Linked DNA regions of Homo sapiens. The protein of the gene in region 6 interacts with the protein of the main gene of each other region in a biochemical or structural test. Each region holds a gene or a part of one and is shown on either strand. Other genes may lie near its edges. The genes, in order: STXBP4, CARD14, RGS12, RIMS2, SIPA1L3, SLCO1C1 and PDZD9.

The links.
Region 1: the proteins of SLCO1C1 (region 6) and STXBP4 interact in a test that uses a peptide from one of them, tested with the Homo sapiens proteins (one large-scale study listed by IntAct).
Region 2: the proteins of SLCO1C1 (region 6) and CARD14 interact in a test that uses a peptide from one of them, tested with the Homo sapiens proteins (one large-scale study listed by IntAct).
Region 3: the proteins of SLCO1C1 (region 6) and RGS12 interact in a test that uses a peptide from one of them, tested with the Homo sapiens proteins (one large-scale study listed by IntAct).
Region 4: the proteins of SLCO1C1 (region 6) and RIMS2 interact in a test that uses a peptide from one of them, tested with the Homo sapiens proteins (one large-scale study listed by IntAct).
Region 5: the proteins of SLCO1C1 (region 6) and SIPA1L3 interact in a test that uses a peptide from one of them, tested with the Homo sapiens proteins (one large-scale study listed by IntAct).
Region 7: the proteins of SLCO1C1 (region 6) and PDZD9 interact in a test that uses a peptide from one of them, tested with the Homo sapiens proteins (one large-scale study listed by IntAct).

What each region holds. Positions count from the first base shown.
Region 1 is NC_000017.11:54,992,765-54,996,264, reverse strand, and holds part of STXBP4 (syntaxin-binding protein 4), read right to left. Parts: intron 1-3,500. UniProt on the Homo sapiens protein: Plays a role in the translocation of transport vesicles from the cytoplasm to the plasma membrane. Inhibits the translocation of SLC2A4 from intracellular vesicles to the plasma membrane by STX4A binding and preventing the interaction between STX4A and VAMP2.
Region 2 is NC_000017.11:80,176,530-80,180,029, reverse strand, and holds part of CARD14 (caspase recruitment domain-containing protein 14), read right to left. Parts: intron 1,523-3,500; 5' UTR 1,375-1,522; intron 936-1,374; exon of another isoform or gene 927-935; 5' UTR 729-926; intron 1-728. UniProt on the Homo sapiens protein: Acts as a scaffolding protein that can activate the inflammatory transcription factor NF-kappa-B and p38/JNK MAP kinase signaling pathways.
Region 3 is NC_000004.12:3,313,521-3,317,020, forward strand, and holds part of RGS12 (regulator of G-protein signaling 12), read left to right. Parts: intron 1-1,290; exon of another isoform or gene 1,291-1,429; intron 1,430-2,549; 5' UTR 2,550-2,650; coding exon 2,651-3,500. UniProt on the Homo sapiens protein: Regulates G protein-coupled receptor signaling cascades. Inhibits signal transduction by increasing the GTPase activity of G protein alpha subunits, thereby driving them into their inactive GDP-bound form.
Region 4 is NC_000008.11:103,881,610-103,885,109, reverse strand, and holds part of RIMS2 (regulating synaptic membrane exocytosis protein 2), read right to left. Parts: intron 1-3,500. UniProt on the Homo sapiens protein: Rab effector involved in exocytosis. May act as scaffold protein. Plays a role in dendrite formation by melanocytes.
Region 5 is NC_000019.10:37,913,708-37,917,207, reverse strand, and holds part of SIPA1L3 (signal-induced proliferation-associated 1-like protein 3), read right to left. Parts: intron 1-3,500. UniProt on the Homo sapiens protein: Plays a critical role in epithelial cell morphogenesis, polarity, adhesion and cytoskeletal organization in the lens.
Region 6 is NC_000012.12:20,719,332-20,722,831, reverse strand, and holds part of SLCO1C1 (solute carrier organic anion transporter family member 1C1), read right to left. Parts: intron 1,029-3,500; coding exon 783-1,028; intron 1-782. UniProt on the Homo sapiens protein: Mediates the Na(+)-independent high affinity transport of organic anions such as the thyroid hormones L-thyroxine (T4), L-thyroxine sulfate (T4S), and 3,3',5'-triiodo-L-thyronine (reverse T3, rT3) at the plasma membrane.
Region 7 is NC_000016.10:21,998,317-22,002,361, forward strand, and holds the start of PDZD9 (PDZ domain-containing protein 9), read right to left. Parts: upstream 2,801-4,045; 5' UTR 2,732-2,800; coding exon 2,701-2,731; intron 1-2,700.

The DNA.
Region 1 (3,500 bases), on a different chromosome or scaffold from region 6:
GAATTCCCATCTAGAATGCCACCATCCACCCTGCCACTTCTCTGCAATAAACTCTGACTTAAACTTCACAGCCCAATTCAAACACTATCTCTGCTGGAAGTTTTCTCTAGTTGCCCAGGATTTACTTAATCGTTGTGTCTTTTTGCTCAAAAAGCACTTTTACTTACCTAAAGGATTGCACTTACTCTGTATGGTCCTTATGTTTACATATCTGCTTTTCCCTGCCCTCACATTAGAATATACTAAATCAGCAACTCCCAGTCTAGGGGCAATGATTCTTTTAGTGGGCCAGAATCACCAATTCTTTCATTAGGCATAACTAGAACTCTGTCCTTTTCATGGTTATTTCCCTGGTACAGTGCTAGGTACACAGTAAGTCCACAATAGGTTAAAGGGGGCCAAGAAACAGTCTGAGGAAATTAAGGTAGCTATGACAAAAATAATAATGGCAAAGGAATAAAGAGAGTGACACTGCAAAGCGAACCATCTTGGCTGCTACTTCTTCAGCTCCCACCAGTGGGACTGGTTTCTTCATAGTTTGCCATCCAGAGGCCTGATCCTGATATTTATCTAAAAGCCTTAGCCCTGGTTCCAGTGCTATGCTCCGCATGAAAACAGATTTCCTCTGAAAGTTAAATATGTCCTACTTCAATGCCACAAATTACATGATGACACTGACTGTGAGACCTATAATTTCAGAGATAGAAGAGGAAAAAATACGTACATACACACACTCATAAGTATATTACATACCGATATATGCATGTTATATATATGTGTGTGTGCATGCATAGCTTATATGTATATGTTTTAATGTATATCTTAGAACCAACTGAAGAAAATATGAAATATACTATCAGATTTGAAGAGAGGATTTTGATTTCTGTCTGCTTTCCCTATGTTACCAGCAACAAAAGAAAGAAATAAAAATGAACATTTGAGAACTTTAAAGTGTTGTCGGAAATCTGACACAAAGGCCCAAGGAGGAAGTACCTTGGTGTGGAGCCCAAATGGTGCCAGTGGAAGGGTAAATAAGCAGATCAGTAATCCTCAGAAATGTGAGAAAATGACTACGGGACCGTTCATTCATAAATTTAAATTGAGCAAGTATGTATGTGTCAGGCACCACAGTGGGGACTAACAATATTACTGTGAATAAAATCAGATAGCATCCTTGCCCTTAAGAAACATACTGTCTTGTGGTTCAGGCAGAGATGATTAAACAATCATAAATATAAATATATCATTGCAAACTGAGGTAGGTGACACAAAGGAAAGGAATGGGATTTAGGAGCATATGTAGAAAAAAATAAAACCTAGCCTAGACTGGGGGAAAGCAGGCAACACAACCCTTAGGCAGCAGTCTTTGAATTGATAACTGGAAATAATGGGGGAAAGGAAATGGAGTGCTGTTTCCTAAGGGAACAGCATATGAGATGGAAAAGAAAAAAAAAAAAGAGAAATTCGCCCCTTCCAGGAACTGAGAAAATGCTACTCTGGAAGCATAGTGATGGAGAGGCAGAGAAGGACAGGGCAGAAGCCACACTATATGGAACCTTGCAGGCAACCAAATATTAGTAAGATATGTAGGTTGGGAGGGAAATAGGTATGGTGCATAAGAACAAACGATGCTACTGAAAGGGCTGATTCAAAACTGATGACAGTTTAAGCTCCAGTGATAAGAATAAAGATCAAGAAGACTGATGGGTTCAAGAGATATTTCGAGAGTAAAAAAGTCAATGGTATGTGTTAATGAATTGAACAGTGTTATGGGAGTTGAAATAGGAAGCTGTTAAATTTTCTGACTTTGTGTAGCTAGAAGCTGTCATTCACCAAGACTAGGTAAACTGGAAGAGACTCTGTTTGGGAAGAGTTGAGCAGAATATGGTGTGATGTAAATGTCATGAGTTCTGCTTCAGAAATGCTGAGTTTGAGATACCTTTAAGAGGTCCAAGTAAAAATGTTGATCAGGGAACTGAATATGGGTATGAAGCTTAAAGGAGTGTCTTGGCCAGAAAAAGGGTCTAGGATTGACCCCAGATAGATATGGGACTAGCTGACACAGTGAAAGGGCCTTGGAGCTCTCTTATTTCCTTAACTTTAGCAATTAATACAGTAGTTCTCAATTTATAGGGTGCCTCTAGCTCTTAGAGCTGAGGGAATCTTGGTTCTGCTTGAACTGAAAAGATGTATTCATAATATCCCATATTTGAACTCTGGATATGTTTTTCAAAGAAACATACTATTTTGCTTCTACTAAACCAGTATTTTATTCTCATATTTTCCAGGAGGAAAACTTTTGGGGTGGGTGGTGGCAAACCATGAATAATTAAAGAAAATTTCTTCTGCGTTCCAATAACTCCCTTACAGTTTGGAAGATTTGAAAATATAAATGAAATATAATCTAGCTATAAGCTTGAGATAGCCTATACTGTTAATTATGAAACATTATAATGTTAAAACAAAATTACAGAAAGTTAAAGCATTCATATGCATTTAAAAAATATTAACAGTTACTCAGTTCAGCAACTTCATTAAGATAACCTTATGAGTTTGTGTTTCCTATTCCACAGATTCTACTATGTAGAAATTTTGTGCAGACTAGAAATTTATTAACATGTTAAAACAGTATTTAGAATATAGTAAATGTATTAATACATTGTTGTAAAATAAAGTTATATCAATTTTGTATTTGAAGAATATGCATATGCATAGAGCTCTCCATCTTGAGAAAATATTTAAAAATAATGTAAGCACTAGAAAATTACTTCTATAAATTTTTTTATTTTTTAGAAATGCTCTGTTGCCCAGGCTGGAGTGTAGTGATGCAATCATAGCTCACTGCAACCTGGAACTCCTGGGCCCAAGGGATCCTCCTGCCTGGGCCTCCAAAAGTGCTGGAATTAGAGGCATGAGCCATCACCCCTGGTCCTCTTCTCCTACACCTTTTTCTATCTTGCCTGTTTTCCTTGGTCAGATATGACCAGGTAGGAAGAACATTAATAGCTCTGTGCTGCCCTCTAGTGCTAAGTAGAGAATATAGTCAATGAGAAAATTTTGCCTTTTAATACTTCAGTAAAATTCTAACAAGAAAAAGTAGATATCATAAGAATAATTTCTTAATCTGCTATCACTGACAGAAGATAAAGAGTCATTCAGCACCACCGCTATCAACTTATTACTCTAACTCCAAATAGTTTTCATCGTAACAAACAAGCACAAATTGATGCTTGTCTTAAAAGCAAATTCTTAGGTCAGGCGTGGTGGCTCATGCCTGTACCCCCAGCACTTTGGGAGGCTGAGGCGGATGGATCGCCTGAGGTTGGGAGTTCGAGACTAGCCTGGCCAACATGGTGAAACTCTGTCTCTACTAAAAATACAAAAATTAGTTAGGTGTGTTGGCACGCACCTGTAATCCCAGCTACTAGGGAAGCTGAGAGGTGGGAGAATCGCTTGAACCTGGGAGGTGGAGGTTGCAGTGAGCCGAGATTGTGCCACTG
Region 2 (3,500 bases), on a different chromosome or scaffold from region 6:
GTTTTCAGCATATTAAAAAATCCTGCAAATAACAAATATCCACATATCTACCATGCGGATTCAACCATCTTGACATTCTGCACTTCAGGTTTCTTTTTAAGGAAATGCGAGGCAGATGGCGCCTTTTTGTTCTCTTCAGTCCCTCTTCCCTCCCTCTCTGGCCAGACATTCTAAAATCATTTAAAAATGATTTTTTTTGAGGTAGGGTCTCACTCTGTTGCCCAGGCTGGAACGCAGTAGCGTGATCGTGGCTCACTGCAGCCTTGAGCTCCCAGACCCAAGCAATCCTCCCACCTCAGCCTCTCAAGTAGCTGAGACCGCAGGCATGCGCCACCATGCCTGGCTTCTTTTTTAATTTTTGTAGAGATGGAATCTCCGTATGTTGCTCAGGCTGGTCTCGAACTTCTGGGCTCAGGTGATCTGTCTACCTCAGCCTCTGAAAGTGCTGGGATTACAGTCCAGCCTAAAAATGATATTTTAAAAATCATTTCCTACAAATGGAAGTGTGTATAAACAGTACATAGCATCTTTGCATGATACTTCGTGCAGACAGCAGCTTTACATCAACAGTGCCTTCAGTGTTAGCTGGAACTTCACAGAAACTATCGTTCTGTGCAAGGCTGTACGGCTTCTGAGGTTTCTCATACTGATACATGCAGCTTGATACATGCATGGTCCTTTAAACTGTGCACTGGATTCAATGATATGAATAACCACAGTGGACTTACGCTCCTGTGGGAGGATATCAGGTTGTGCCTAATTTTTCTCCACTGCTCACAGAGCTGCAGCCACCGCCTTTGTTAATCTCCTGGGCACAGATGGGAGCGATTCCTTACAGACCCATGAATTCCTGTGACTTGATTCTTTTCATTTGGAAGGAGAGGCTGGACCACTGGAGACAGATGCCTCTTGCAGGGATCTGTATGCTAAAAATACTTGAAAATCAGAGCAAATCAACACCTGTCATCTGAAAAATGGAAAATGGGCCGGGGCCAGTGGCTCATGCCTGTAATCCCAGCACTTTGGGAGGCCAAGGCGGGCAGATCACCTGAGGTCAGGAGTTTGAGACTAGCCTGACCAACATGGTGGAAACCCGTCTCTATTGAAAATACAAAAATTAGCCAGTCATGGTGACGGGTGCCTGTAGTCCCAGCTACTTGAGAAGCTGAGGCAGGACAATCACTTGAACCTGGGAGGCAGAGGTTGCAGTAAGCTGAGATTGCATCATTGCACTCCAGCCTGGGTGACAGAGTGAGACTCCATCTCAAAAATTAAAAGATAAAAATAAAACATGGAAAATGATCGTTGGAGAGTCGTGTGTGCAGGAGCAGCGCCAGAAGCCGTCCCAGGAGCCGGGTCTCCGGAAGTACTCACCAAGGTTCTCAGGTTTGCTTTTGCAGGAGCTCCGTGCAGCAGGGTGGGGTCCACAGTCCCCGCAGTGTCTCCAAAGCCCAGTGTGGTGCCAGCTGCCTCCTTTCTCTGCGGGCTGCTGGGTGGGACGGAGCTGGGCAGAAGGAAGAGCCTGAAGTCAAAGCAGCACCAGGTGAATTGACCGTGATTTCAAAGCCATGTGACCTGTTCCAAAACTCAAGGTTCGGTCACAACCACCGCAAGCGGCGGGGAAAAGACGTCAGACTCGGATCCGGGAAATAACTCGACGGACCTTTGACCCCTGTGGTTTTCCCAGTAACTATTGAAGCTTCCTTAGCACTTGGAAGCAGACTTCTAGAATGGACCTGGGCTTTGAACCCTAGACTACCAAGGAGAGTTGACAGGCGCAGTAGTTATCCAAAGCACCCACAGGCCTGTCTGCGGCTCCCCACAGGGCCAGGCCACTCATACCCTTCTGCTGAGTCTCCTTGCCCGGAAGGAAGAACAGCTGGAGAGGACAGTGACGGGCGCAGAGGCCGGGGTGGGCAGGTGAGGAGGAGAGGAGAACCAATCGAGGGCAGCTCTGCCTCATTCCTTCTGATCTCAGTCCTGTTTCTCACTGGAACAGGTGATTGAGGCTTGCGAGTCAGGGTGTCACTGATTGTGGCCCCCCGCAAAAGAATGCTGAAGTCTTGACCCCCAGTACCTGTAAGTAGGACCTCATTTGGGAATAAGTCTCTGCCAACGTAATCAAGTTGAGGTCATTAGGGTGGGCCCTAGTCCAGGGATGGGTGCCCTTATAACAAGAGGAGAAGGGCTGGGTGTGGTGGCTCATGCCTGTAATCCCACACTTTGAAAGGCCAAGGCGGGCAGATTGCTTGAGCTCAGGAGTTTGAGACCAGCCTGGGCAACACAGTGAGACCTTGTCTCTGCTAAAATCTGCTAAAAAAAAATTTTTTTTTTTTGAGACAGAGTCTTGCTCGTCTCCCAGGCTGCAGTGCAATGGCACAATCTTGGCTCACTGCAACCTTTGTCTCCCGGGTTCAAGCAATTCTCCTGCCTCAGCCTTCTGAGTATCTGGGATCACAGGTGCATGCCACCATGCCCAGCTAATTCTTTATTTTTAGTAGAGACAAGGTTTCACCATGTTGGCCAGGCTGGTCTCGATCTCCTGACCTCAAGTGATCCGCCTGCCTCGGCCTCCCAAAGTGCTGGGATTACAGGCATGAACCACTGCACCTGGCCTAAAAAAATTTTTTTTTTAATTAGCCAGGTGTTGTGGTGCACACCTGTAGTCGCAGCTACTTAGGAGGCTGAGGTGGGAGGATCGCTTGAGCCTGGGAGGTGTAGGTTGCAGAGCTGAGGTAGTGCCACTCCACTCCAGCCTGGACGACAGAGCAAGACCCTGTCTTAAAAAAAAAAGAAAGAAGAAGAAGAAGAGGAGGAGAAGGGCCCTAGGCCTAGACACCCCATGATCACCCCATGTTGGCAGAGGCCGAGACTGGAGTGACACGCCAAGGGTCGGTGGCAACACTAGAAACTCAAGAGAAGGCATGAAGCAGACCCTCCCTGGAGCCTTCATGGGGGTGCGGCCCTGCTCACCCCTGGAGTGTGGACTTCTGGCCTCCAGAACCATGAGCAAATACATTTCTGTTGTTTTAAGCCACCCAGTTTGTGGTAATTTATGACGGCAGCCAGAGGGAGCGTGCACAGGGGCAAAGGCGATGTGGAAATTGTCCGTCCATCTCCAGGGATGCGCTGCCAATGGGCACACTCCCACAGAAGGCTCCTGAGCTCCTGGGCCTCCACCCAGTAGAAGCCTGCGTCGCTAGAGTCTGACTCCAAGTCAGAATGATCCTCTGCCCCACTTCAGGACCAGCTATATCGTCTGTGGAGCTCAGGGCAAAATGAAAGGATGGTGCGTTTGTTTTAAAAACGTATTCAGAATTTCAAGGCAGCAATAGCGAGCAATAAAGTCAGCCCAGGGCCCCCACTCCAGCCCTGCCCTGCATCACCGAGGGGTCTTCAGGCCCCCTGTCTATCAGGATGTCAGGATGGTAGCTAAAGGTAGGGGATGTTTCCTTTACAGATGATGGAATGTCCTAAAGTTAACTGTGGCGGCGATTGCA
Region 3 (3,500 bases), on a different chromosome or scaffold from region 6:
GAAAGAAATTACTGCAAACTGGGGGGCTTAAGACAACACACATTCATTCTCCTGCGTTTTCGGGGGCCTCGTGTCTGCAGTCAGTGTGACCTGGCTGATGGCAGGTGTGGCAGAGCTGGTTCCTCTGGTGACTTTAAGTCTGCTTCCTTCACCTTTCCGGCTTCTGGAGGTGACCGCCTGCCCGTCTGCCTGGGCTCGAGACCCATCCTTGAATCCCTGCAGTCTCCGCATCCTTCCTCATGTGGCCGTCCCCTCTGGCTCTGACCCCAGGCTCACACAGGCGCACCCCACACTCTCCCCATCTCTAGAGCCTTCACGTGGTCACGTGGATGGGAGGAGCCATCCAAAAGCTTGGGAGTGAGGATGTGGGTGTATCAGGGGCCATCAGCCAGCCTGTCACACCTCTTAAGAAGATCGATCCCCAGACGTGTTTCTTGGCCAACTTTTACATTTATTTATTTATTTTTTAATGATGATTTTTAATAATTTTTAATTATTAAAAAATTATAAAATAATTTTAATTATTTTATTTTTTAAATTCATTTTTTAATGATTTTAAATAGTTAAATGCCCAGTCCTAATATTTAAATTATTAATACAGTACTACTTAGATATTGAGTAATGTAATTTATATTCATTTTTTACTCTTTTCCATCAAAACATAATTTTACTAAGTACGCATGTTCTGTGTCCGTGTTTTGTCATCACTGAAGCCACTTTTGGAGTCACCTAGTAATAGCCTTTCCACTCTATCTAGTTCTGTAGCTTTTATGTGTGTAAATTACTTCAAATCTGTTTATGATCCTATTGCTGGAAACTTTATCCCAAGACACAAAAATCTTTTCTATTAGAAGTTATTAACTTTAAAACAATTATTTATTTTATTTTATTTTATTTTTTGAGACAGAGTCTCGCTTTGTCACCCAGGCTGGAGTGCAGTGGCACGATCTCGGCTCACTGCAAGCTCCACCTCCCGAGTTCATGCCATTCTCCTGCCTCAGCCTCCCGAGTAGCTGGGACTACGGGCGTCCGCCACCATGCCCAGCTAATTTTTTTTGTATTTTTGGTAGAGACAAGGTTTCACCGTGTTAGCCAGGATGGTCTTGATCTCCTGACCTCGTGGTCCACCTGCCTCGGCCTCCCAAAGCGCTGGGATTATAGGCGTGAGCCACCGCACCTGGCCTAAAACAATTATTTCTTTAAAAAAACATACCCTCTATTCTATTTTGTGTCTTCACAACACAATCACTTACTGTATTGCTTTTTAAAGTGATCTTTAAAGAGTCTTGCAGAAGAGACTACACAGCAGGCCCGAGACCATCCTGAGAGGCCTGTGTGCAAGGCTGGCCCCCCGCTGGTGTCAGGACGGTGCCCACCACCCTCAATGAAGAGGGGCTCCCTGTGCTTAGCTGCTTGTGTGGGGAACAAGGTTTGTGCTGAGAACCTTCCTTTCTTCTGGGAGTCCAGAGTCTGGGCACGAAGCAGGCAGAGGGTGCCCATGTGCCCAGCCCCCAGTAAAAACCCTGGCACCGAGTCTCTAGTGGGCTTCCCTGGTGACGACACTGCACATGCGTTGTCACGGCTCACTGTGTAGGGAGTTAAGTGCGTCCTGCGTGACCCCGCTGGGAGAGGATTCTGGAAGCTCAAGCCTGGTTTCTTTGGGACATCGCCCCATGGACCTCTGCCCTTGCTGATTTTGTGTGGAATCCTTTCGCTGTAATGAATCTCAGCTGTGAGAGCACCTTTGTGCCAAGTCCTGGGAATCCTAGGGAATCACTGGCCTGGGGGTGATCCGCGGACCACTGACAAGTTTGTTCTCAATGACAACCAATACTTTTATACCCCCTGGAAGAATTGAGTTAATATGACATTTCTGCTTTTTTAGGTGGTGGTTTTTATCTAGCCTGTTGAGTGGCCTCTGCAGTATTGATCGAGGTTGTTTCAGGCTAATACGTTTTCCCCCACACAGTATATTCAAAATAAATTAATGTGGGAGGGTCATGGAATATTAGGTGACCCCTCTCCTGAGGGAAAACTCTATGTCAGGGGATTTATGATCAACTAAGGGGTTAGACTCAGTGTTCTGCAGGTGCCTTTGAACCTGAAGCCTGTAGCAGGCCTTGCTTCTCACGCTTGGACTCTGCCATCCTGTGAAACGTGGGTTTGGGTGTGTTTCTTCTGTGTGGAGCCCGAGAGTCTGCCTTTCAGACGGGCTGCCAGTCCACGGACCACACTTTGAGTAGCAAGGGGCTCTTTCCATCCAAACAGGGTGTGGAAGCAGTGCTGGGAAGCAGTCCTGCATCCTCACACCCGTGGCAGGTGGGCCTGGCAGGAACTTGTGTGGTAACAAGGTAGCAGTTGTGGGAGACATTTTCTACTCCGAAAGGAAGTTTCTTAGCCTGACTTGAAGATTTATTATCTATAGACACTTAGAGGCTCTTTCTGTGGTGGTTTTTATTATGAATTATCTTTTTGTGTTTAGCTAATACCAGTGAGTGGTGGAGAAAGATGGGCTCTTTAATAATGAGCTGTTCGTTTTTCTTTCTTAGGGCACTGTTTGAAGAAGCAAACATGGTAGCATCAAGCATTCCTTGAAATATGGCTCCAAGGGAACAATGAGACGTGCTCTTGGTCTTGGAAGCTCATCAGAATGTTTAGAGCTGGGGAGGCCTCCAAACGCCCATTGCCTGGGCCGTCGCCCCCAAGGGTGCGGAGTGTGGAGGTTGCCCGGGGGAGGGCCGGCTACGGATTCACGCTTTCGGGACAGGCACCCTGTGTGCTCAGCTGCGTCATGAGAGGGAGCCCTGCGGATTTCGTGGGCCTCCGAGCTGGAGACCAGATACTTGCTGTCAATGAAATCAACGTGAAAAAAGCATCTCATGAAGATGTAGTGAAATTAATTGGGAAGTGCTCTGGTGTCCTTCACATGGTGATTGCTGAAGGCGTCGGCCGCTTCGAATCCTGTTCCAGTGATGAAGAAGGGGGACTCTATGAAGGAAAAGGCTGGCTGAAGCCCAAGCTGGATTCTAAAGCACTAGGTATAAACAGAGCAGAGCGAGTCGTGGAGGAAATGCAGTCTGGTGGAATTTTCAATATGATTTTTGAAAACCCGAGCCTTTGTGCGAGCAATTCAGAGCCCTTGAAATTGAAACAAAGATCCCTTTCAGAGTCGGCCGCAACTCGATTTGATGTTGGACATGAAAGTATAAATAATCCAAATCCCAACATGCTTTCTAAGGAGGAAATATCAAAAGTTATTCATGATGATTCGGTTTTCAGCATTGGACTAGAAAGTCATGACGATTTTGCATTGGATGCAAGTATTTTAAACGTGGCGATGATCGTGGGCTACTTAGGCTCCATTGAGCTTCCTTCCACGAGCTCCAACCTGGAGTCCGACAGCTTGCAAGCCATCCGCGGCTGCATGCGGCGCCTGCGGGCAGAGCAGAAAATCCACTCGCTGGTGACCATGAAGATCATGCACGACTGTGTGCAGCTGA
Region 4 (3,500 bases), on a different chromosome or scaffold from region 6:
GTGGTTATTAAGTGCCTGCAACACTATATCTGGAATATGCTTATGCTTGAAAATTAGATAATATGATATTCCACTGCTATAAACTAGCATTTATTCTAATTTCCTTGCTTGGTTTGCTACGTACACTTCCACTACCCACCAACTATTATTCAGCAGCTTAGAAAAATATTTCCTCCATCTTCTCTATACCTAACATGCTGATATGAAAGTTACCTGAAAATGTAATGAAGCCAAACTGATTTGGCTCAAGAGTTGAATACTTTCTGACTAAAATTAAGTGCTGGCTCTTAAAAATCATTTTTCATTCATCATCTTCTAGATCATTCCTAGTATTGGTTCACCTAAATTTTCATTTTATCATCATGTCTCCAACCCTTTTTTATTGATCTAACTTGAGATAAGCAATAAAAATAGACAAATAATAATGATTTATTCATTACAAAAATCCTAGAAATCAGAAAAAACTGCTATTTTTATTCCATCTTCATTTAGATTAAGAACAGCTTGGTGATATTATTCTACTAAGTCTCCACATCTGACCCCTCATATTTCCTTATAGTCTCAGAGGAAGAAACTGCTTATTACCTTCTCAACTTACCCTTCTAACACTGGTAAAACCTAGTGAACCTTGCAATAAGACATGATACCCTGTTAACAAAATATTCACACTAACCTTTTCTCTGGAATAAACTTAGATAATATCAACTATTAATCATGAAAAGCAATAGGATTAGAATCCTGAAGATAACAGAAAAGGTTTAGAAAACTATTATGGGGATTTTGCCAGGACATGAACAGGAGACAATGAAAGAGTGAAGTCAGCTGAAGTTAAAGATGACTAAGATTCAACAGTTCAGTTGTGAATTTCTTAGTCAATGGTTTCTTAGCCCAAAAGCAAGAGCAGATAAAGGATACAGTAGAATGACCCAACCTGGCAAAATCAGCACTCTTCTCTAATATCTCCCCCGGGTCACAGAATCCCTTTTCCCCTCATATTTGGAACACAGTCTGCCAATCTACCAATTAGGTTCACTAACGAAAACAGAAGTTAGTCTAGGTTTTCCAGGTAGGAAGGGTTTTAATTCAGGAACCAGAAGCTACATAACAGTTGAATGGGCGACAGGAATAAAGGCCAAGAAAGTTAATGCTGATGATCTTAGCCTGAAGATGCAAAGACAAGGGTTCTCAAAATGGACACTAGAAAGCTGCTGTGAATGTCAGGAGTCTATGGAAATCTGCCAGCAATTACCTGTACCACCTACAGCATCAGGGTGGCCAATTAACAGGAGTTTGCCCAGGAGCCACTAAGACTTTTATATCTGCCCATCTGCTAGCCAACAACTAATGCTTGACAATAATGGCTTCTGTATATCCTCTACCTTTCAAATCTCATGTAAGTACAAAGCCAGGATAAACTCTAACCTGGAACTATAAAGGAATAAGTACTGTAGAAAGTGAAAAAATTAGTCTATCCCTTAAATGTTTTATAATTAAGAAAGTGGATGTGATATTTTTTAGCATTTACATTTATATATGAAACACTTAGGACTTAATTACAAATCTTTTATATTACAATTGTTACATAAAACCATAGATTCCTACAGTTTAAAATTTACAATCAAAACAAAACATTCAAAAAAATTTATAGTACCCAACACCCTATGTTTCTGTGTATATGTGTGTGTGCACTGTGCATCATTCATTTCACTTTTGTCATTACTTTTATACATTTGACTAAAAAAACTCTAGCATGATAGTAGTCTATCATGAAGAGAACACTAGATTTAAGGAATCTACAGTTCTTAGTCATACTTTTGTAATTAGCCAGTTATTTCGAACTATATAACCATTAAATCCTTAGGAGTTTGTGCTTTAAATTGAGAGGCATAGATTTTACATGTTAACTTATATATTACTTTAACAAACATATATTAGGTTAAGAAATAAATGCCACACACTATCTTATAAATTAGGAATGCAGAAATGATTAAGACACCTTCCTTGTTCTTAAGAGGGTGAATGATTCTAAAACCATCTTCCATTTCTTAGGTACTATGATTTTACAATATTGATACCACAACTTCATCAAGTTAATAAGCCTACATGAAAGCTTAATGCATTAAAGATTTCCCATAATACATTTAATGTTAAACTGAGTATTTTAGGATAGAAGTTAAAAAAAGGAATATTTCATTCCTATCTTAAGGAATTAACATGAATTTTTGAAAGTAAGTAGAGTATAAAGTGAATACAATGAGTCTTTATAACAGGGGATTATATTTTATCTTACAGATAAATAAGAATATTTACTTCCTATTATGGAATTCAGTTCCAAGAGAAAGGCTATTAATAATTAGTCACTAGCAAGCCATCTAAGTACTTTTTAAAAATCATACCTTAGGAAAATTGAATTCAATGTTAAATCCAGCAATCACATTGTTCTAGAGATTATCAAATTTGCCAGAAATATGTGAATCATACTGTAGATGTCGATTTGTACTGGATTTAAGATTATAACCACTATAAAAATGGAACAGTGGTTATAATCGGAAATTGGGATGACTACTGTCACTGTTACAAAGACTTAGGTTTTCAAGAATACCCTTTAAGGTATAGTACCTTACAGTATGTTAACACTATGCGAGAAACAAGGCAAGATTTCATTCTAACAATACATGTATCAAACAATGAAGAACCTGCAATCAATTATTTCAAAATAATAAATATTCTATCAAACAATTTTTACCAACTATATTATGAATTACTTCATATATACTGTCCTTTAAATTTTAAACTTCTATATTTCATAGATAGTATATTCCTTTCAGGAACTAAATAAAATCAGTGTAAATTCAAGTAATGTGTTTCTACTGTATATCTTTGCTATTGGCCTTTATAAACAAGCCTTAGCATTTATTATCATCAGGTGGAAAATATTTAATAGATAAAGCAATATCATTGATAATTTGTATATTTCTCTACAGAACCATAAGGCATTTAGCAGTATTTAATTCATCTGTTATAATACAAAGGAAAAGGAACGATTCGTCTAGGATTTTACATTTCACTTAATCCTTCAAAGACCCTGAGAAATTAAGAGGCAGAATCCAAAATTATGCCTTTCTTTAGTATAAAATGTATTTGTGGCATCATATAGTGCCTTAATCTTTACTCCTACGCATTCTATTATCCTTATTTCTGTTATAATATCAGTATATATTTATATTCACTTTATATTTACCTAATATCGATTCACTTCTCTTTATTGCCACCTGTGTTGTTAGAATTGCTTTCTCTTTTGCCAGAGTATTCTGTCCTTAATTAGAACCAGTTTATAGAAAACCACATTTTAAACATCCTAAATCTACTGTAGTAAGTATCATTTCTATTCCTTGCTTACAATTGTTTGTCATGTGGACTATTCAATCTATTTCTAAATATTCTAGCTTGTATAACACATCTGATGCTCCATTATAAATGTTATTCTAACTATGCAAAAT
Region 5 (3,500 bases), on a different chromosome or scaffold from region 6:
GTACCAACTGAGATACGCTGAAAGTGTAAAATACATATTGTATGTCAAACGCTTAATGTGGAAAAAAGGAAGTAAAATAGCTCACTAATAATTTCTATATTGATTACATGTTGAAATGATGTTTTAGATGAAATAAAATATATCATTAAAATTACTTTCCTGCTTCCTTTTACTTTTCAAAATATGGCTACTAGAAAATTTTTAATTACCTATATGAGCCTCATCAGTGACCCACATTTTTTTTTTTTTGAGAAGGAGTCTCACTCTGTTGCCCAGGCTGGAGTGCAGTGGTGCAATCTTGGCTCACTGCAACTGTCACCTCCAGGGTTCAAGTGATTCTCTGCCTCCGTCTCCCGAGTAGTTGGGATTACAGGCACATGCCACCAGACTCAGCTAATTTTTGTATTTTAAGTAGAGATGGGATTTCACCATGTTGGCTAGGCTGGTCTCGAACTCCTGAACTCAAGTGATCCACCCGCGTCAGCCTCCCAAAGTGCTGGGATTACAGGCATGAGTCACCGCGCTCGGCCCCACGTTATATTTCTAACAGACAGCACTGTTGTGGGCTTTTGAGAACCAGTGTCTTATTCAACTTTATACTGTCAGTGTCAAGCATGGACCCTGACACACAGGGTAGGTGAAGAAATGTTTCACAGATGGACAGATGAAAGATGCTCTCCATACTTTCAGTCTTTTTTTTTTTTTTTTTTTTTTAGACACAGAGTGGTGTGATCATAGCTCACTGTATCCTTGATCTCCTGGGCTCAAGGTGTGGTAGTGCCTGGGCTCAAGTGATCCTCTCACCTCAGCCTCCTGAGTAGCTGGGATTATAGGTGCACATCACCAAGCCTGGCTAATTTAAAAATTTTTTGCAGAGATGAGGTCAGATGCGGTGGCTCACGTCTGTAATCCCAGCACTTTGGGAGGCTGAGGCGGGAAGACCACCTGAGGTCAGGAGTTTGAGACCAGCCTGGCCAACATGGTAAAACCCCATCTCTACTAAAAATATAAAAATTAGCCGGGTGTGGTGGTGGGCGCCTGTAATCCCAGCTACTGTGGAGGCTAAGGCAGGACAGTCATTTGAACCCAGGAGGCAGAGGTTGCAGTGAGCTGTGATCATACCACTATACTCCAGCCTGGGCAACAGAGTGAGAACTGTCTCAAAAACAAAAACTTTTTTTTTTTTTGCAGAGTTGGGGTCTATGTTGCCCAGACTGGTCTTGAACTTCTGGTCTGAAGTAATCCTCCCACCTCGGCCTCCCAAAGTGCTGGGATTACAAGCCTGAGCCACCATGCCCACCCAATATTTTTAGTCTTAAAAGCACCCACTACTGTCCTCACATCTAACCAGGGCTACCCTTCATTCAAAATACGCCCACGCTACAGCAAATCAAAGTGCACACAGGTCATGATGCCGGAGCAGGGACCTGGGGCCCTTACAGGTCCAAGAATCATTGTCTTAGTTGATGGGCTATAGTATGATACTTTAACAGCCCACATGGCTAGTGTGCTTAAAACACCATTTCCAGCTGGGTGCATGGCTCACATCTGTAATCTCAACACTTTGGGAGGCTGAGGCCGTCGGATCACTTGAGGTGAGGAGTTGGAGACCAGCCTGGCCAAGATGGTGAAACCCCATCTCTACTAAAAATACAAAAATTAGCTGGGAGTGGCGGTGGGCGCCTGTAACTCCAGGTACTCAGGAGGCTGAGGCAGGAGAATCGCTTGAACCCAGGAAGCGGAGGTTGCAGTGAGCCCAGATCACACCACTGCACTCCAGCGTGGGCAACAGAGCGAGCCTCTGACTCAAAAAAAACAAAAACAAACAAACAAAAAAAAACACCTTTTCCAGCCAAGTCCCAAGTCCCCTTGCAAAGCTCACCCAAAGGAGACACCCTGCTCCCTCTCCTTGGACACTACACTTTGTTTCATGCTAACCTGTGCCTGGTATGGCAACCAAGCAGTCAACCTTGTTTTACTTGACAGGCTCTGCTGGAGGGTCTTTAGTTTTGAAACCACCACCAAACCATCCCTATCGTGTCTCATTGAGAGCAAAAATGATGCCACAACATCCCAGGCGGCCCCTGCTGCCACATCAATTAGGTACTAAATATAGTCTAAAGTGCTTTGCATGTCAAACAACAAGGAAAGGAAATGCTGTGTCCACTTCCTCAATTTGCCTCTGCCTGGTAAGGAGGGCCCTGGAAGAGTTTAGAATGCAGGTGAAGAGCATGGAGGGTGGAATCAGTTTCCTCATCTGTAAAATGAGTTTGATCAAGTTAATTACTTCACTGGACTACTGTCAGGATTAACTGAGGAATGTGTGAAATGCTTAGAAAAGCATCTAGCACAGAGTAAGCACCAGGTAAGCTGCTATCATTATTATTATTTTATAAAAAAGTAGGCCAGGTATGGTGGCTCGTGCCTGTAATCTTAGCACTTTGGAAGACTGAGGGTGGAGGATCACCTGAGCCCAGAAGTTCAAGATCAGCCTGGGCAAAACAGGTCTCTACAAAAAATAGAAAAAATGTGGCCGGCTGCAGTGGCTCACACCTGTAATCCCAGCACTTTGGGAGGCTGAAGCAGGCAGATCACCTGAGGTCAGGCGTTTGAGACCACCCTGGCCAACATGGTGTAACCTGTCTCCTCTATTAAAAGTACCAAAAAAAAATTAGCCAGGTGTGGTGGCACATTCCTGTAATCCCAGCTCCTTGGGAGGCTGAGGCAGGAGGATCACTTGAGCCCAGGAAGCAGAGGTTGCAATGAGCTGAGATCATGCCACTGCACTCCAGCCTGGGCGACAGAGCAGACCCTGCCACAAAAAAAAAAAAAATTAAAGTAGTATCAACTTGAAAACTAGGAATTAACTCTTCTCCAGTCAAACTGATACTCTTTGTAGCAAACTCACTCCCACCTCCGGGCCTTAACACTTGCTGTTCCCTCTACCTGGAATGTTCTTTCTTCAACTTTCGGCATAGCCAGTGCCACTGCTCATTAAGGTATCAGTTCACATGACTCCTCAAAGAGGCCTGGGAGGCCTTCCCTGACCATCAAAGCTAAGGTAACCACCGCCATCTTGCCCCATCAGCCATTTGCTCTCCACTTACCCTGTTAAATTTTCTCCATCACAGTTAAAACTATCTGAAGAGGCAGGATCAGGATTTTTTTTTTTTTTTTTTTTTTGAGACGGCCTCTCACTCTGCCGCCCAGGCTGGAGTGCAGTGGTGCAATCTAGGCTCACTGTAAACTCCGCCTCCTCCTGCCTCCTAGGTTCACGTGATTCTCCTGCCTCAGCCTCCCGAGTAACTGGGACTACAGGCGCCTGTCACCACACCTGGCTAATTTTTGTATTTTTAGTAGAGACGGGGTTTCACCTTGTTAGCCAGGATGGTCTCGATCTCCTGACCTCGTGATCTGCCCGCCTCAGCCTCCCAAAGTGCTGTGATCACAGGCGTGAGCCGCTGTGCCCAGCCAGGATTTTTTTTAATTAAAAAAAAAAA
Region 6 (3,500 bases):
GACAAGAACAGATTCCTCTAACTGATGTGGGCAAAAGACGAAAAGGATGAGAATACTCCCTCATCATCTAGCTGGGAGCCACAGGCAGGACATAAAGACCTTCACTTTTCTTGTCTCTATTCCTCAAACTTAGCTTGTGGTCAAAGAGAAAGAAATATGAGAGTTATCTCCATTTAATATATGAATTTTAGTGTTAGAAATGAGCATTGGTGTTCTCCCTTTTTCCTATTATGTAGCCTACCAATTAGACATGTGAAGAATTTCTATAAATGTAAATATTGCTTGAAGGGACAAGAAGAGGGGGACCAATATCATGAGGGGCTGCTCATTTCCATGAAGGGGGTTCATTAGAACACTGGGTTTTTGCCTACAGAACACTCACCCCTTTGATCATTGGTGAGAGACATGCATTGATACACATCTCTCAAATGAATAGATCTTATCTGTTGAAAGGCTGCCAACCTTGAAGATTAAGCCTTTTATTTCCTGTATACACAGAATTACAGGAAGCAGCAATCCTGGGTAGAGACAATGGTAGGATCTAAACTGAGGAGGTGTGAGAGGGTGGAGACATCAGCAGGAATGGCTGTCAAGCCTTTGCTCTTTGGTCGTGTACTGCAATCAGTTGTTCAGTAATAAAGCTGACATCAATTTCCATTTTTGCTTCTGATATGGTTTCTCAACTTTTTAATACACGAAGGGAAGAGAGGGATGTAATTTATAAATCTCCTTAAGCCCCAACAGAAAAATGAAAATACTTCAAAATCAAGAATTTGACTTACCTCTTGCCATTTCCATTATTTTTGCATTTTCTCCCTGGGGTGTTTGGTAGTCTGTGTGATCATCTATAATAAACTTGGATTTCTCAGAGGAAGAATTAGAATCCTCTCTACTTTGGGATCTTGGTAAACTCTTTGGTAAATACCAGAAAGGCACAGCTGCAAGAAGACTTATGATTCCTGCTATTAGATAGCCAAGCCACCAGGCTCCTACCCACTGGGGATCTTTTGGGGTAATGGTTATGTGATCTGAAAGACAGAGGGGATGGCTAAGTAATACAAACAGCAAAGCTAATATGTTAAAATAATATACTTAAAAATAAATTCTTGCAAAACTCTATAACATCATAAAATACCTAATAATTCATCTATGCTATTTTTTTTTTTATCTGGATCTTACCACAGGCATACCTTGGAGATTTTGCAGGTTCAGCTCCAGACCACCACAATGAAGTGAATTTCACAATACAGAATCACATCAATTTTTTTGTTTCCCAGGGCATACAAAAGTTATGTTTAACTATACTGTAGTCTATTAAGTATGCAACAGCATTATGTCTGAAAATGTACATACCTTCATTTAAAAAAAAAGTTATTGCTTAAAAAATGCTAATAATCATCTGAGCCTTCAGTGAATAGTGATCTTTTTGCTGGTACAGGATCCCATCTCAATGTTGATGGCTGCTGACTGATCAGGGCAGTGGTTGTTGGAGGTTGAAATGACTGTGGCAATGTATGAACATAAGAAAATGATGAAGCTTGCCACATAGATCAGCTCTTTCCTTCATGAAAGTTTTCTCTGTAGTATGCAATGCTATTTGACAGCATTTTTACCCACAGTAAAACTTCTTTCAAAATTGGAGTCAATCTTCTCAAGCCCTGACACTGCTTTATCAACTAAGTTTATGTAATTTACTAAATCTTTTGTTGTCATTTCAGTAATGTTCACAGCATCTTCATCAGGAGTAGGTTCCATCTCAAGAAGCCATTCACTTTGTTCATCCACAAGAAGCAACCCTTCATCTGTTTAAGCTTTTTTTTTTTTTTTTTTTTTTGAGATGGAGTTTCACTCTTGTTGCCCAGGCTGGAGTGCAATGGCGCGATCTCGGCCCACCACAACCTCCGCCTCCCGGGTTCAAGCGATTCTCCTGCCTTAGCCTCCCTAGTAGCTGGGATTACAGGCATGTGCCACCACGCCCGGCTAATTTTGTATTTTTAGTAGAGACAGGGTTTCTCCATGCTGCTCAGGCCAGTCTCGAACTCCTGACCTCAGGTGATCTGCCCGCCTTGGCCTCCCAAAGTGCTGGGATTACAGGCATGAGCCACCGCGCCCAGCCTGTTCAAGCTTTATCATGAGATTGCAGCAATTCAGTCGCATCTTCAAGCTTCATTTCTAATTATAGTTGTCTTGCTGTTTCTACCACATATGCACTTACTTTCTCCACTAAAGTGTTCAACACCTCAAAGTCATCCAGGAGGGCTGAAATCAATTTCTTTCACACTCTTGCTAATGTGGATATTTTGACCTCCTCCTATGAATTGCAAATGCTCTTAATGGCATCTAAAATGGGGAATCCTTTCCAGAAGGTTTTAAATTTACTTTGTCTAGATTAGAAATCACTAGAAATCATTAGAAATCACTACTGATCATAGCTATAGCTTTGTGAAATACGTTTCTTAAATAATAAGACTTGAAAGTCAAAATTACTCCTTGATCCATGGGGTATAAAATGGACGGTATGTTAGCAGGCATGAAAACATTTATCTCTTTGTACATCTCTATCAGAGTTCTTGGGTGACTAGGTGCATTGCCAATGAGCAGTAATATTTTGAAAGGAATATATATATATTTTTTTTCCTGAGCAGCAGATCCTAACAGTGGGCTTCAAATAGTTAGTAAACCATGCTGCAAAAAGATGTGCTGTCATTCAGCATATCTCTATTGTTCTAGTTAGAGAGCACAGGAAGAGCCTATGTGTAGGAATTTCAGAATGTTAAATGAGCATTGGCTTCAACTTAAAGTCACCAGTGGCCTTAGCCCCTAACAAGAGAGTCACCCTGTCCTTTGAAGCTTTAAAGTCAGGATTGACTTCTCCTCTATGGCTGTGAAGGTCCTAGATGGCATCTTCTTCCAATAGAAGACTATTTCATCTACGATGAAAATCTGTTGTTTAGCATAGCCACTTTCATCAATAATCCTAGTTAAATATTCTGGATAACTTTCTGCAGCTTCTCCACCGGCACTGGCTGCTTCACCTTGCACTTTTGTGTTATGGAGACAGCTTCTTTCCTAAAACCTCATGAACCTGTTTGCGCCAGCTTCAAACTTTTCTTCTGCAGCTTCCTCATCTCTTTCAGCCTTTATAGAATTAATGAGGGTTAGGCCTTGTTCTGAATTAGGTTTTGGCTTAAGGAAATGTTGTGGCTGGTTTAATCTTCTCTCCAGACTACTAAAACTTTATCTCAATAAGGCTATTTCACTTTCTTATCTTTCATGTGTTTACTGGAGTATCACTTTTATAAATTCCTGCCAGAATTTACATTCACAACTTGGGTAACTGTTTGGTGCAAGAGGCCTAGATTTTTGCCTGTCTTGGCATTCAACATGCCTTCCTCATTAAGCCTAATCTTTTCTAGCTTTCCTTTTAAAGTGAGAGATGTGCAACTCTTCCTTTCACTTAAACACCTAGAGGTCATTGTAGGGTTACTAATTGGCCTAAT
Region 7 (4,045 bases), on a different chromosome or scaffold from region 6:
TGTCTCAGGAGTTTGATCCAGACCTCTATAAGCAAATGCAGAAGTTCGGGAAGGCAAGAAACACAAGTACATCTTGAAAAAAAAACAAAAAAAACTTTGTGCAAGGCACGGTAGCTCACGCCTGTAATCCCAGCACTTTAGGAGGCCAAGGCGGGTAGATCACGAGATCAGGAGTTCGAGACCAGCCTGGCCAACATGGCGAAACCTGTCTCTAAGTTACAAAAAATTAGCTGGGCATGGTGGCGCGGGCCTGTAATCCCAGCTACTTGGGAGGCTGAGGCACGAGAATCGCTTGAACCCAGGAGGCAGAGGTTGCAGTGAGCTGAGATGGCGCCATTGTACTCCAGCCTGGGTGACAGGGCGAGACTCTGTCTCAAAAACAAAAAAAAATTATCTGGGCATGTTGGTGCATGCCTGTAATCCCAGCTACAAGCCTGGGTGACAGAGCAAGACTCCATCTCAAAAAAAAAAAAAAAAAAAAAAAAAGAGAGAGAAAAAAACCTTGACAAAGTGAAGTTGGATGTAGATTTTCTTGGAGCAAGTAAATACATGCAATCTCCTGTCTCAAATGCTAGCAACATACCAGACCACTCTGCTTCATTTTGGAGAGAAGACTTCTCACACTATGGCAGCCATCCATGAGAGCTTCACAGGTTATCAGCCATATGAAGTCACTACTTTAAAGCACTTACAAAACCCTCTGAAAAAACTAGTTGAGAAAGAAGAAAAGAAGCTCACCCAGCAGGAAAGCACAGATGTAACAGTGCAGGAGCTGAGTCAATTAATTTCATTAGAGGATGAAAACCACGACAAGGAAAACACTGAAGATGGAAAAGGTATTTTATGTGTTTTAGGCAAAGGCTCTTCACACAGTGCATGCTCAGGATGAACTATTAGACATGAAACCTGAGGAAAGTGCTCGCTAGGGCCCAGTGGCAGGGACCCTGGAACCCGAAGGTACTGACAAAGATGATCCTACTGCTGTTGAAAGTGAGATCTTCAATGCTTCCTCCCTGGAAAAGGGTGAGCTCAGAAAAGAGTGAGCTGCTGTGTTTGGGGACAACCAGGTGGAGGAGGCAGCACTATGGTCCTCGGAGAGCCAGACCCCAAGCACCAGACTAAAATATGAAAGACTTACAGGTTTTGCTACAAGGCTAGTCAGACAGCAATGTCAACCTTCCCAAGGACAAGCAGTCCAAATGACAACAGCCCTGCAGTGAAAAAGCCTAAGGCTGTCTGGCACCTGCCTGCCTAGTTCAGCCTCTTTGCCAACCTCAAGTCTTATCAAATCCTGATGCTGTGCGGAAAAAAGCCATAAAGAACAAGAATTGCTCAGTGCAGGAGTCTGCATCCTTCAGTAAGCCCACCTGGGGGCTAGCAGAAGTATAAAGTGATTAGAGCCTGGGCAACATAGTGACACCTCATCTCTTCTATTTAGGCTGGGCATGGTGGCTCACACCTGTAATCCCAGCACTTTGGGAGGCCGAGGGTGGGCGGATCACTTGGGGTCAGGAGTTCGAGACCAGCCTGGCCAGCATGGTGAAACACCGTTGCTACTGAAAACACAAAAATCAGCCAGGCGTGGTGGTTCACGCCTGTAATCCAAGCTACTCTGGAGGCTGAGGGGCAAGAATCGCTTGAACCCGCCTGGAAGGCGGGGGTTGCAGTAAGCCAAGATCATGCCGCTGCACTCTAGCCTGGGTCACAGAGCAAGACTCTGTCTCAAAAAAAAAAAAAAAATTAGCTGAATGTGGTGGTGCATGCCTACAGTCCCAGCTATGGGAGGCTGATGCAGGAGGATTGCTTGAGCCCAAGAATTGGAGGCTGCAGTGAGCCAGGAGCATACCACTGCACTCCAGCCTGAGCGACAGAACAAGACTCTGTCTCTAAAAATAAAATACAGTGACCCATATGCTATTTTAAGATTTATGTGCCCTTTTAATAAAAATGAAAGGGCCAAAGTCCCTATTTACATTGGTATAATTTTTTAAAGGCTCCTTACTATGTGATTTCATTTTTATGATGTTCTCCATGGAAAAGGCAAAAAAAAAAAAACGCTGTAAAAAACAGATGGGGGTGTGAGGAGCTGCAGTGGGGTGGGGTTTGGCTGCAACTGGGCATTGCAAAGTAATTTTAGGGAGTGGTGGAACTGTTCCCTATCTTGATGGAGGGGGTGGTTCAACGTGGGTATAGCTTGTCAAAACGGTAGCTGTACTTTTAAAAGGGGGGATCTTACTGCATGGAAATTATACCTTGATAAAAATAACGATGGCCAAGGCGGGCGGATCACTTGAGGTCAGGAGTTTGAGACCAGCCTGGCCAACATGGTGAAATCCCATCTCTACTAAAAATAAAAAATTAGCTGGGCATGGTGGCAGGCACCTGTAATCCCAGCTACTCGGGAGGCTAAGGCAGAGGAATCACTTGAGCCTGGGAGGCAGAGGTTGCAGTGAGCTGAGATCGCGCCACTGCACTCCAGCCTGGGGGACAAAGCAAGACTCCTTCTCAAATGATGATGATGATGATGATGATGATGATGATGATGATGATGATGATGATAATGATGATGATGATAACAACAACGATGGAGAGAGGTTATCTCCCAGGCCAAGAGTGCACCGTTGCCATTTTACAGAGGAGGAACATTGACGAAGGCTTGGTCCCCAGGGCTTCTTCACCCGCTTCCTTCTCCCCAGTTACCTTTTTTGTTTTTGTGGGAGGCCTTCTGCATGGTCCCGGGAGGTCAGGCAGCCCGGGAGGGCCTCCCGGAGCAGAGGCTGGAGTCAGTCCCAATGCCAACAGTTTCGAACCTTGCCCGCGGGCACTGCCCTCGGGATGGCCGCCAGGGGGCGCTGCGCCGCCACTGCCCAGAAATTGGGCGGCAGTGAGGTCGCCGCAAGGCTTCCCGTGGACCCTGCAAAACGTGGCGTGGGCATTGCACACCATTGTACTGTATGGAAACTTCTGCAGAGGTTAGCACCGTGCCTGACCCACGGTGGTTTCTTCATTCCTTCTTTTCTTTTTCTTTTTTTAAGAGACGGGCAGGGGGTGGGGGTCTCACTATGTTGCTCAGGCTCAACACAACTGTTGCACTATGGGCTCAAGCGATCTGCCCGCCTCAGCCTCCCAAAGTGCTGGGATTACAGGCATGAGCCACCGCGCTTGGCTTCTTCATTCATTCTTGGTGAACCTAAGAAATAGGGAGGGGGAGAAGGCACAGAGGAGGGTGTCTCAAAGATGTGAGGTGGTCTGCAGAGGAAGATCACAGCCAGAAGATCACAGGAGATCACAGAATACCTAGAAGATCAGAGAATCCCCCGCTGCACTTCTAATAATGGTATTTTAAAAAAATTGTTACATCAGTAGCTCCAATGCTTTGGAACTGCACTTTTTTTCATGAATGTTTTGAATAAGAAAAGGCCCCAGGGTGGCCTAAAAAAAAATGAGTCACTATTAGGAGAGGCACTATTAATGCTTCCTTCTTTTTTCCAAGATAATTCTTCCTCCCACACACATTCACTCATACAACAAGTATTTACAGGGAGCTGTTCTGTCATTTACTGATACTGGGGACACAACAGTAAGCAAGACAAACACAGAAACACAGGCTCTATCCTCTTGAAACCTGTACTTAAAAAACAGATGAAGTGGACAATTTTAGGAAAATATAAATTATTAAAAATAAATTCTAGGCCAGGTGTGGTGTCTAACACCTGTAATCCTAGGTACTCAGGAGACTGAGGCAGGAGGACTGCTTGAGCCCAGGAGTTTGAGATCAGCCTGGGCAACATAGTGAGACCCTTTCTCTATAAAAAAAATTTAAAAATTAGCTGGGCATGGTGGTGCACATCTGTAGTCCTAGCTACTCAGGAGGCTGAGATGGGAGGATCACTTGAGCCCAGGATTCAAGGCTGCAGTGAGCTATGATTGAGTCACCACCTTCCAGCCTGGGTGATGGAGCAAGATCCTGTCTCAAAAAATAAAAATGAATAAATGAGTTAGTAAATTCTAGAAGAAAGAGAAAACCTAATGAGGTAGGCCCTGG